3 linked regions of the Homo sapiens genome follow. The protein of the gene in region 2 purifies or fractionates together with the protein of the main gene of each other region. This does not show direct contact. Each region holds a gene or a part of one and is shown on either strand. Other genes may lie near its edges.

Region 1 (3,654 bases), on a different chromosome or scaffold from region 2:
ACCTCAAGTGATCCACCCACCTCAGCCTCCCAAATTGCTGAGATTACAGGCGTGAGCCACCACACCTGACTTTTTTTTTTTTTTTTTTTTTTTGTATTTTTAGTAGAGATGGGGTTTTGCCATGTTGCCCAGGCTATGCTTGAACTCCTGGCCTTAATCCCTCTCAAAGTGCTGGGATTACAGACGTGAGCCACCATGCCCGGCCTTCCTTACTGTCTTTTAATCTATGAAGATCGTCCATCTTTGCTGTTGATGGTAGTGAAATTTTGGAGGAATACAGGCTAGGTGTTTTGTAGAATGTCCGCAGTTGGCACTTGTCTGGTATTTCCTCTTGAGGAGATTCAGGCTGTGTCCTTCGGGCAGGAGTACAGCATATTCCTGATGTTTGCTATCACTGCATTACGTCACAAGGTACATAATTCTCGTTTTGACTTTTTTTTATTATTTAGCTAAGGCAGCATCTGCCTCTTTTCCCCACTGTATAAAAATACTGGTTCTTCCTTTGGTGGTAAGAAATGGCTGTGGGAAGACATTTTAAGACTATATAAAGATCCTGTTCCTCTTTAAGCTTCTGTCAGTTTCCTTGTGGTTTTCATTTGCATTTCTCATGTGAGAAGTGAGATTGAACATGGCTCTTGTGTTTATAAGCTGTCTCTCTTTCCCTTCACTGTGAGCCTTCACTGCACATAGCTCTTGCATTTTAATCAGTTCCTGCGATTGGAGGGCCCACCACTCTCGATATCTCAACTTACTGCTTGCTACGCAAGGGAGAGCTGGGCTGCAGAGCACAGGCCCTCTACGTGTTGCCGAGCATCATGGGGCTCGGGGATCAGTGACTTTCAGATGCAGGGATGTTGAGGGATTGTTTGGCCTTTGGTTTTGGAAGGTAGACAGTGGGGTGAGGCTGCTGCAGCCTGGCTGACTTCCAGAAGTGTGGCTACTGGTGTGAGGTCGCCATTGGTCCATTAGGAAAGATTTTGTTTTGTTTCTAGTCAATATTCTGCGGAACCATTAGGGAGGGTTTAAACTGGTTCTGGTGGTTAGTTATTTATGGTTTGGGATTATAACCAAACAAGAAAGGACAATCCGTCTCTTCCTTCTTGAATGTGGAGAATTGGAAATTCTTAGTCCAGGCCCTGCCAGGACTCACAGATACATGCCGTGGTCCCAAAGTCTTTTCTTTTCTAGCTCATCTGAGGGGCAGGGTGCCCACTCTTCAGCATCATAGGCCCCAAGCAGGGAGGGTGCCAGGTGCTTTGAAGGAGGTGACGCTGATGTGCACCCCACCAGCTCCCATCTTGAGAACGACTTACATTGACAAAGCCCTTTATAATGTCAAACCACTTTTTAAAAATTCAACTTTTCGGCCGGGCGTGGTGATTCACGCCTGTAATCCCAGCACTTTGGGAGGCCAAGGCGGGTGGATTGCTTGAGGTCAGGAGTTTGAGACCAACCTGCCCAACATGGTGAAACCCCATCTCTACTAAAATACAAAAATTAGCTGGGCGTGGTAGCAGGTACCTGTAATCCCAGCTACTGGGGAGGCTGAGGCAGAATTGCTTGAACCCAGGAGGAGGAGGTTGCAGTGAGCCGAGATTGCGTCACTGCACTCCAGCCTGGGCCACAGAGCCAGACTCCATCTCAAAAAAAAAAAAAATTCAGCTTTTCCATTAAATTTGTGTATGCTTTGTGACATTTCTTCAGATCACATGATTTTTAAAACTAAAATGGGTTTTTATGGTTTTAAATAAAATTACATGTTTAAAAACTGATTATTAAGCTGCACGTGGTGACACATGCCTGTTGTCCCAGCTACTCTGGAGGCTGAAGTGGGAGGATCGCTTGAGCCTGGGAGCCAGAAGTTGCAGTGACCCGAGATCACGCCACTGCATTCCAGCCTGGGTGACAGAGTGAGACCCTGTCTCAAGAAAATAAATTAAATAAAAATAAATAAAAGGGCCCCACAAAATCCAGGTAGGGGGTAACTGATGAACTGATTACCTATTTCAGATTTACGAATCTCAAAACTCTAAGATAGAGATTATGGCATCTAGTCAAATACTATTTGAAATACTACGTACTCTCAAAGTTTTAATAACAAAATGGTAAAAATTATATTGAAGGTTCAGTCTCCTCAGATTCTTAAAGACTTTGTGAATTATATAGGCAGGATTTAAGGATAGCATCTCCACCTAATGAGGTGTAACACTTGCTTGGTTTTAAAACGTCCAGATCAGTTCTTGTTGCTTCCTGAAGCATGGGCTTGGGTCTGCAGCATGTTGGGCGCACAGCATTATGGGAAGGGAAAAGGCACAGGCTGCCGTAGAGCTGGGGTTTCAGAGTGAGACAGATTTGGCATAGAGTCCAGGGACTCCACTTAAAGTCTGTGGGCAGTTGTTCCCTATTTGTCTGAGCCTTTGTTTCCTCATCTGCATTATGGTTTAATAGGCTGTCAGGAAGGCTAAAGGAGATAATGGGCCAGGTGCAGTGGCTCATGCCTGTAGTCCCAGCACTTTGGGAGGCCAAAGCAGGTGGGTCACCTGAAGTCAGGAGTTCAAGACCAGTCTGGCCAGCATGGTGAAGCCCTATCTTTACTAAAAATACAAAAATACAAAAATTTAGCTGGGCGTGGTGGTGGGCACCTGTAATCCCAGCTACTCAGGAGGCTGAGCCAGGAGAACAACCTGAACCTTGGAGGCAGAAGTTGCAGTGAACTGAGAATGTGCCTCTGCACTCCAGCCTGGGTGACAGAGCGAGACTCCATCCAAAAAAAAAAAAGAAGATAATGCGAGAAAGAGACATTGTCTGGTACCTGGCACATACGTCCTCAGCTAGTGGTTGCTGTGATGAAGAGGTCGGAAGAATCTGATCATCTTTTACCTCTACATACTTAGCAGATCAAATTCTTCATGCTAATCATTTTAACAACTGGATTAGTTAATTGTTTTTTAATGTTCCCCTTTTATTAGGAAAAAGTGCCCAAAAAGTTTAGTGGTTTTTTACTTTAAAATACAATTTAAGAATAATTTCTGACCCACTTATTGTAAATTGAAATGTTTTGTAAATTGAAAACGTACCAAAACCTCATAAGCATCTGCTCTTTTTAGCTTTGTGAAATAAACATCAGGGAACATCTGTCTTTGAATTGTGACCAATATGTATGTGTCCTGAGTGTAATGGTTAAGAGGGTAGGATCTGGAGTCACACTACTTGATGAAGTCCCAGCTCTATCCCTGATTAGCCATGTGAGCTTGGGCAACTTCTCTGTGCCTCAGTTTCCTCGTCTCTCCAGCACGAGGGAGAGAGTGGTAACTCCCTCCTTGAGTTGTCGTGAGGATTATTTATTGCTGCAGTTAAGGTGCTTAGGGCAGGGCTGAGCACAAGGTAAGCATCAGCCCGTTAGCCGGCATTATACTTTGCCTTCTATACTTTGCCTTCTCGACTAGTGATACAAGTTATCTTAATTTAAATAGAATCCATTCTGTACTACTGATTCTTTTTCCCCTTTACATTTTTTTAAACCAAATAAACAATAGCTTTCCATATTCCACAAAAATTGTGTCATATTTGTATCACACATGTATGATGATCTTATGTTTACGATAAAAAAAACTATAAACCTCACCTGAATAAATGTACTTACTACACTGTATT
Region 2 (3,654 bases):
GGTCTCGAACTCATGACCTCAGGTGACCTGCCCTCCTCAGGCTCCCAAAGTGCTGGGATTATAGGCATGAGCCACCATGCCCAGCCAGAGTCCTTATGTTTTGGTTTTGGTTTTGGTTTTTTCTTTTTCTTTTTTCTTTTTGAGATGGAGTCTCGCTCTGTCACCCAGGCTGGAGTGCGTTGGTATGATCTCAGGTCACTGCAGCCTCCACCTCCCAGGTTCAAGTGATTCTCCTGCCTCAGCCTCCTGAGTAGCTGGGATTACAGGTGCACACCACCACACCTGGTTAATTTTTGTATTATTAGTAGAGATGGAGTTTTACCACATTGGCCAGGCTGGTCTCGAACTCATGACCTCAGGTGATCTACCCCCCCACCCCCACCCCACCCCGCCGTCGGCCTCCCAAAGTGAGGCATGAGCCACCGTGCCCAGCCCAGAATCTTTATCTTCTATCAGAGATCATTCACTCATGGTTCATGCTTCTCCTGTATGATGATTCAGAATACCAGCTATTGACATTTTTCAAGCAAGAACCCTTCAGGAACATCAAGTTGCCCCTTTTCTGTTAGTCCTCTGGTTTGAGAGCTCTCCCCTTGGGAAGCTGTCCAGTGGCTGCCCAGGCGATGAGAACCTACATGCATCATGGGGTTCCATGAAGCCTCACTTGGCCACACTGGTGTAGTAGGTGGTCATTGGCCTCAAATTATTGCCCTGGGCCAGGCGCAGTGGCTCACGCCTGGGAGGCCGAGGTGGGTGGATCACTTGAGGTCAGGAGTTCAAGACCGGCCTGGTCAACATGGTGAAACTCTGTCTCTACTAATAATACAAAAATTAGCTGGGCATGTTGGCGCACGCCTGTAGTCCCAGCTACTCAGGAGGCTGAGGCAGGAGCATCATTTGAACCTGAGAGGCGGAGGTTGCAGTGAGCTGAGATCACACCACCGCACTCCAGTCTGGGCAACAGTGTGAGACTGTCTCAAAAAAAAAAAAAAAAATCTTGGCTGGGTGCGGTAGCTCATGCCTGTAATCCCAGCACTTTGGGAGGCCAAGGCAGGTGGATCACAAGGTCAGGAGTTCAAGACCAGCCTGGCCAACATGGTGAAACCCCACGTCTACTAAAAATACAAAAACATTAGCTGGGCATGGTGGCGCGTGCCTGTAATCCCAGCTACTCATGGAGGCTGATGCAAGAGAATTGCTTGAACCTAGGAGGCAGAGGTAGCAGTGAGCCAAGATCACGCCATTGCACTCCAGCCTGGGCAACAGAGCAAAACTCCATCTCGAGGACAGAAAAAAAATTGATTGCTCTGGCTCTACTGATACAATCTTAGGCTGCTTAATGGGATCTTAGTTGAATAGGATGCTGTACATCTTACAGGTATTGGAAGGTTGAATGAAACCAAGCCCATGCATTCAATAGTGGCTGCTATCATTACTAACCGTTGCAATTACCCTCTTTTCTTTTTGCCTGAGAATAATGGGATGCAGGGTGAGGGGGAATATTGGGTGAATTAAAGATTTGGGTCACTAATTTCTTTCTTTTTTTCTCAAGATATAGTCTTGCTCTGTCTCCTAGGCTGGAGTGCAGTGCCACAATCTTGGTTCACTGCAACCTCTGCCTCCCGGGTTCAAGTGATTCTTCTCCGTCAACCTCCCAAGTAGCTGGGATTACAGGCACCCACCTGTATTTTTGTATTTCTAGTATTTTGTATTTCTAGTAGAGACAGGGTTACGCCATGCTGGTGGCCAGGGTGGTCTCAAACTCCTGACCTCGGGCAATCCACCACACCCAGCTAATTTTTGGTATATTTAGTAGAGCCGGGGTTTCACCGTGTTGGCTGGGCTGGTCTCGAACTCCTGACCTCAAGTGACATCCATCTTCCAAAATGCTGGGATTACAGCCATGTGCCACCACGCCCAGCTAATTCTTGTATTTTTAGGAGAAATGGGGTTTCATCATGTTGTTCCGGCTGGTCTTAAACTCCTGGCCTCATGATCCACCTGCCTTGGCCTGCCAAAGTCCTGGGATTACAGGCATGAGCCACTGTGCCCAGCCACTCATTTCTTATGAATTTATTCTAACACATTTTCCGGATGAACAGGGCACCTTGAAACATAGGTTAGTGGGCTGGGTATGGTGGCTCCTGCCTGTAATCCCAGTACTTTGGGAGGCCTAGGCTGGTGTATCGCTTGAAGTCAGGAGTTTTTTGTTTTGAGACGGAGTCTTGCTCTGTCGCCCAGGCTAGAGTGCAGTGGAGTGATCTCGGCTTACTGCAACCTCCGCCTCCTGGGTTCAAGTGATTCTCTTGCCTCAGCCTCCTGAGTAGCTGGGACTACAGGCACGTGTCGCCACGCCCATCTAACTTTTGTATGTTTAGTAGAGCCGGGGTTTCACCATGTTGGCCAGGATGGTCTCAAACTCCTGACCTCCTGATCTGCCCACCTCGGCCTCCCAAAGTGCTGGGATTACAGGCATGAGCCATTGCCCCGGCCAAAGTTAGGAGTTTGAGACCAGCCTGGCCAACATGGTAAAACCCCATCTCTACTAAAAAATACAAAAATTAGCCAGGCAAGATGGCATTTGCCTGTAATCCCAGCTACTCAGGAGGCTGAGGCGGGAGAATCTCTTGAATCTGGGAGGCAGAGGTTGCTGTGAGCTGAGATCGCGCCACTACACTCCAGCCAGGGCGACAGAGCATAAATAACTCCCTTTCAAAAAACCAAACAATGAAACATAGGTTAGCGGAGTCTGCATCCAACATTAGAGTCAGATTGACTAAGTTCTGTATTTCCAGCTGATTCCTGGGCGATGTTGGTGCCACTGGTCTGACCACCCTTTGACAACTGCTGCTCCAGATAATTCAAGTCGGGGTATAACACAACCAGTGAGATGTAAACCAAAGACGATTCCACGGTTAGATTCTCAAGAATGACTTGTTCTGCCGGGCGCGGTGGCTCACGCCTGTCATCCCAGCACTCTGGGAGGCCGAGGTGGGCAGATCACCTGAGATTGGGAGTTTGAGACCAGCCTGACCAACATGGAGAGACCCCCACCTCTACTGAAAATACAAAATTAGCTGGGCATGTTGGTGCATGGTGCATGCCTGCAGTCCCAGCTACTCGGGAGGCTGAGGCAGGAGAATCACTTGAACCCAGGAGGCGGAGGTTGCTGTGAGCCGAGATTGCGCCACCTGGGCAACAAGAGTGAGACTCAGTCTCAAAAAAAAAAAAAAAATGACGTGGTCCTATTTCTCCCACAGGTTGGTGTCTTGTTCCGCTACCACTCAGCAGTGGGCTGATCTCTCCTTGGCCCTTGAAGTCAACCAGTCCCTGACGTGCGTAAACCTCTCCGACAATGAGCTTCTGGATGAGGGTGCTAAGTTGCTGTACACAACTTTGAGACACCCCAAGTGCTTTCTGCAGAGGTTGTCGTAAGTCTCTCCTCTCTTACAGAGCAGCTGTGCTTTCGATCTGGGGCCACAGACGAGCAATGGTCATGCCTGACTTGGCTGTATGGAACCTCTCGCTGATGTGAACACCTGTTCCCATGTTTAGATCCAGGCCGATGGCCTGTGAATTTTGTTCTTCTCTCATTCCTATTCCTTCATAGGATCACCAGTGCATGATAGAAGGTGGGGAGTTCACAAGAAGGGG
Region 3 (2,572 bases), on a different chromosome or scaffold from region 2:
TGATGTTTGGGCTAGAGGATGACAAGATGAGCTGCTTTGTCGGTTCCAGATATCTCCAGCCCAGCAGAGATGGCCCTCTGCAGTCTAGCCGTATTTTGCCCTTCCACCATTCTTGGCTGTGACCTGGTCCAGCTGGGCCCTGAATGAATGTTTGCTTCTCAGGCCAGTATTCTCCCCTCCTCACCAAGCCACCTCCACACAGCTCTAAGGAAGCTCCCCCAGGTCCAGGCCTCAGGGGAGCCCTGCCCTCAGGCCGACCCTACTGCCTTTTCAGAGCCCTCCCTGCCCTCCTCGGAAGTTGCTGATGAACCTCCTACCCTCACCAAGGAAGAACCAGTTCCACTAGAGACACAGGTAAGCAATCACTTTGAGTTTTCCAGTTTTTTGTTTTTTTGGTTTAAGGCAGGGTCTCGCTGTTGCCCAGACTAGAGTGCAGTGGTGCGATCCTGGCTCACTACAACCTCCACTGCCTCCTGGGTTCAAGCAATTCTCCTGTTTCAGCCTCCTGAGTAGCTGGGATTACAGGCGCCCACTACCACACCTGGCTAATTTTTGTATTTTTAGTAGAGATGGGGTTTCACTATGTTGGCCAGGCTAGTCTCGAACTCCTGAGCCCAAGTGATCCACCCATCTCAGCCTCCCAATGTGCTGGGATTATAGGTGTGAGCCACTGTGCCCGGCCAGGCTTCCCAGTTTCTAAGTCAAAAAACCAGGAAAGACTGTGGATGTGGGGTTGGATCTGCAGCGCCGGAAATGAGTCCCAGGGTTGTAGGCAGGGGAGGATGTTTGATCATCTGCTGGAAGGAGCAGAGTGGACATCCCATTATAATTCGGGTGGGTGGGAAGGTTCTGGTTGGGAGGGGTGGCCCTGGCATTCCATGCTCTGCCTGCTCCTAGGTCGTTGAGGAAGAGGAAGACTCAGGTGCCCCGCCCCTGAAGCGCTTCTGTGTGGACCAACCCACAGTGCCGCAGACGGCGTCAGAAAGCTAGCACCATCCCGGCCCTCCGCCTCCTGGCCCTGCCTCTATTTATTGCATTCTGGTTCTGGCCGCGCCGCGTTGCTGGGGTAAGGGCAAGCACTGGGGTCAAGAGCCTGCACACATGAGCCTTCCGGGCTGGAAGGCTGGCGTAGGACTTGGGGCTGTAGCATCATCTTCCTGACCCTGGCACCTGTGTCTACTTGCTCCCGAGAAGAGGAGCGCTCATGTCTTTTTTGCACCCCAAGTTGGCTGGAGCATCGGCCACCCCAAGATTCATCTGTGACCTCCAGGCAGCAGTCTCTGCTCCAGAATCTCTGGACGGAGCTGCTGGCAGCTTCTGCGAGAAGAGAGAGATGTGGAAGGCACCTTCTAGAAGAGAGCGTGCCTCAGGTTACTTGAACTTGAACGGAGACTGTAGACTCCCGGACTTTCCCCTAGGACTGGGGGCCCTGTAGGCTGCTGTTGGAGGACTGGGTAGAGACATTGGAGGGAAGGGAAGGGCTTTTCTCCACACAAGGGCAGAGAGTCCGTCTAGATTTCTTGCTGTCCTGCCAGCTCTGCCCATGCCTGAGGTGGTCCTACCTCTCACGGGCACCCTAGCTGCTGACAGCCCTTTGTGGCCGCCGTCCCCATCCCCTGCCCTCAGCACACACATCTGCACACACGCAGCTTTGTTCTCACCTCTACCTGTCATTCCAGCATCCCTGCCTCTTGTCACAAACTGCCCCAGCAAGAATTTGAGGTTCTGACAACAGTACCCATCCCCCACAGTACCCCTTCAGCTCAGTTTCTAGAAAGCTCCCTTTTCTTTGAAATCTGCATGTTGAATTGAACTTTGTGATTTTATTTTTTGTTTCAAAAAAGTTTAAGAAAATGGAAATGGGCAACAGTGAGTGAAGACATATTTTAGCACTGAATAGAATATTTTTAAAATTAAACTATTTGAAATATGTCCTGTTGGTATCTGAGTGCTTCCTTCTTGAAGGTTGCGGGCCGGGGTGGGGGTGGTGGCTGAGTGCTTGTGGGGTCACTGTGGGCTGGGCCTGCCCATCCTTTCACTCCCACAGTGTGGACTTCATGACAGTGATTTCTAGCCTCCCTTTGAAGCTGTCACGTAGTTCAAATTATGCTTCTCGCTGGGCGTGGTGGCTCATACTTCTTATCCCAGCACTTTGGGAGGCCGAGGCAGGAGGATCACTTGAGGCTAGGAGTTTGAGACCAGCCTGGGCAACACAGCAAGACCCTATCTCTATCTAAACAATATTTTTAAATTAAAACATAAAAACCAGGCCAGGCGCAGTGGCTCCCGCCTGTAATCTTAGCACTTTGGGAGGCTGAGGTGGGTGGATCATCTGAGCTCAGGAGTTCAAGACCAGCCTGACCAGCAAAATGAGACCCCATCTCTACTAAAAATACAAAAATTAGCCAGGCATGGTGGCAGGCGCCTTTAGTCCCAGCTACTTGGGAGGCTGAGACGAGCATTGCTCGAACCTGGGAGGTGGAGGTTGCAGTGAGCCAAGACTGCGCCACTGCGCTCCAGCCTGGGTGACGGAGCGAGACTCCATCTCAAAAAACAAAACCAAATTCCATCC

Evidence for each region.
Region 1: the proteins of NLRP2 (region 2) and TTF1 purify together in Homo sapiens (affinity purification with mass spectrometry; one large-scale study listed by BioGRID and IntAct). This does not show direct contact.
Region 3: the proteins of NLRP2 (region 2) and BCL7B purify together in Homo sapiens (affinity purification with mass spectrometry; one large-scale study listed by BioGRID and IntAct). This does not show direct contact.

What each region holds. Positions count from the first base shown.
Region 1 is NC_000009.12:132,379,201-132,382,854, reverse strand, and holds part of TTF1 (transcription termination factor 1), read left to right. Parts: intron 1-3,654. UniProt on the Homo sapiens protein: Multifunctional nucleolar protein that terminates ribosomal gene transcription, mediates replication fork arrest and regulates RNA polymerase I transcription on chromatin.
Region 2 is NC_000019.10:54,986,762-54,990,415, forward strand, and holds part of NLRP2 (NACHT, LRR and PYD domains-containing protein 2), read left to right. Parts: intron 1-3,260; coding exon 3,261-3,431; exon of another isoform or gene 3,432-3,632; intron 3,633-3,654. UniProt on the Homo sapiens protein: Suppresses TNF- and CD40-induced NFKB1 activity at the level of the IKK complex, by inhibiting NFKBIA degradation induced by TNF. When associated with PYCARD, activates CASP1, leading to the secretion of mature pro-inflammatory cytokine IL1B.
Region 3 is NC_000007.14:73,535,716-73,538,287, reverse strand, and holds the end of BCL7B (B-cell CLL/lymphoma 7 protein family member B), read left to right. Parts: intron 1-274; coding exon 275-354; intron 355-897; coding exon 898-990; 3' UTR 991-1,932; downstream 1,933-2,572. UniProt on the Homo sapiens protein: Positive regulator of apoptosis. Plays a role in the Wnt signaling pathway, negatively regulating the expression of Wnt signaling components CTNNB1 and HMGA1.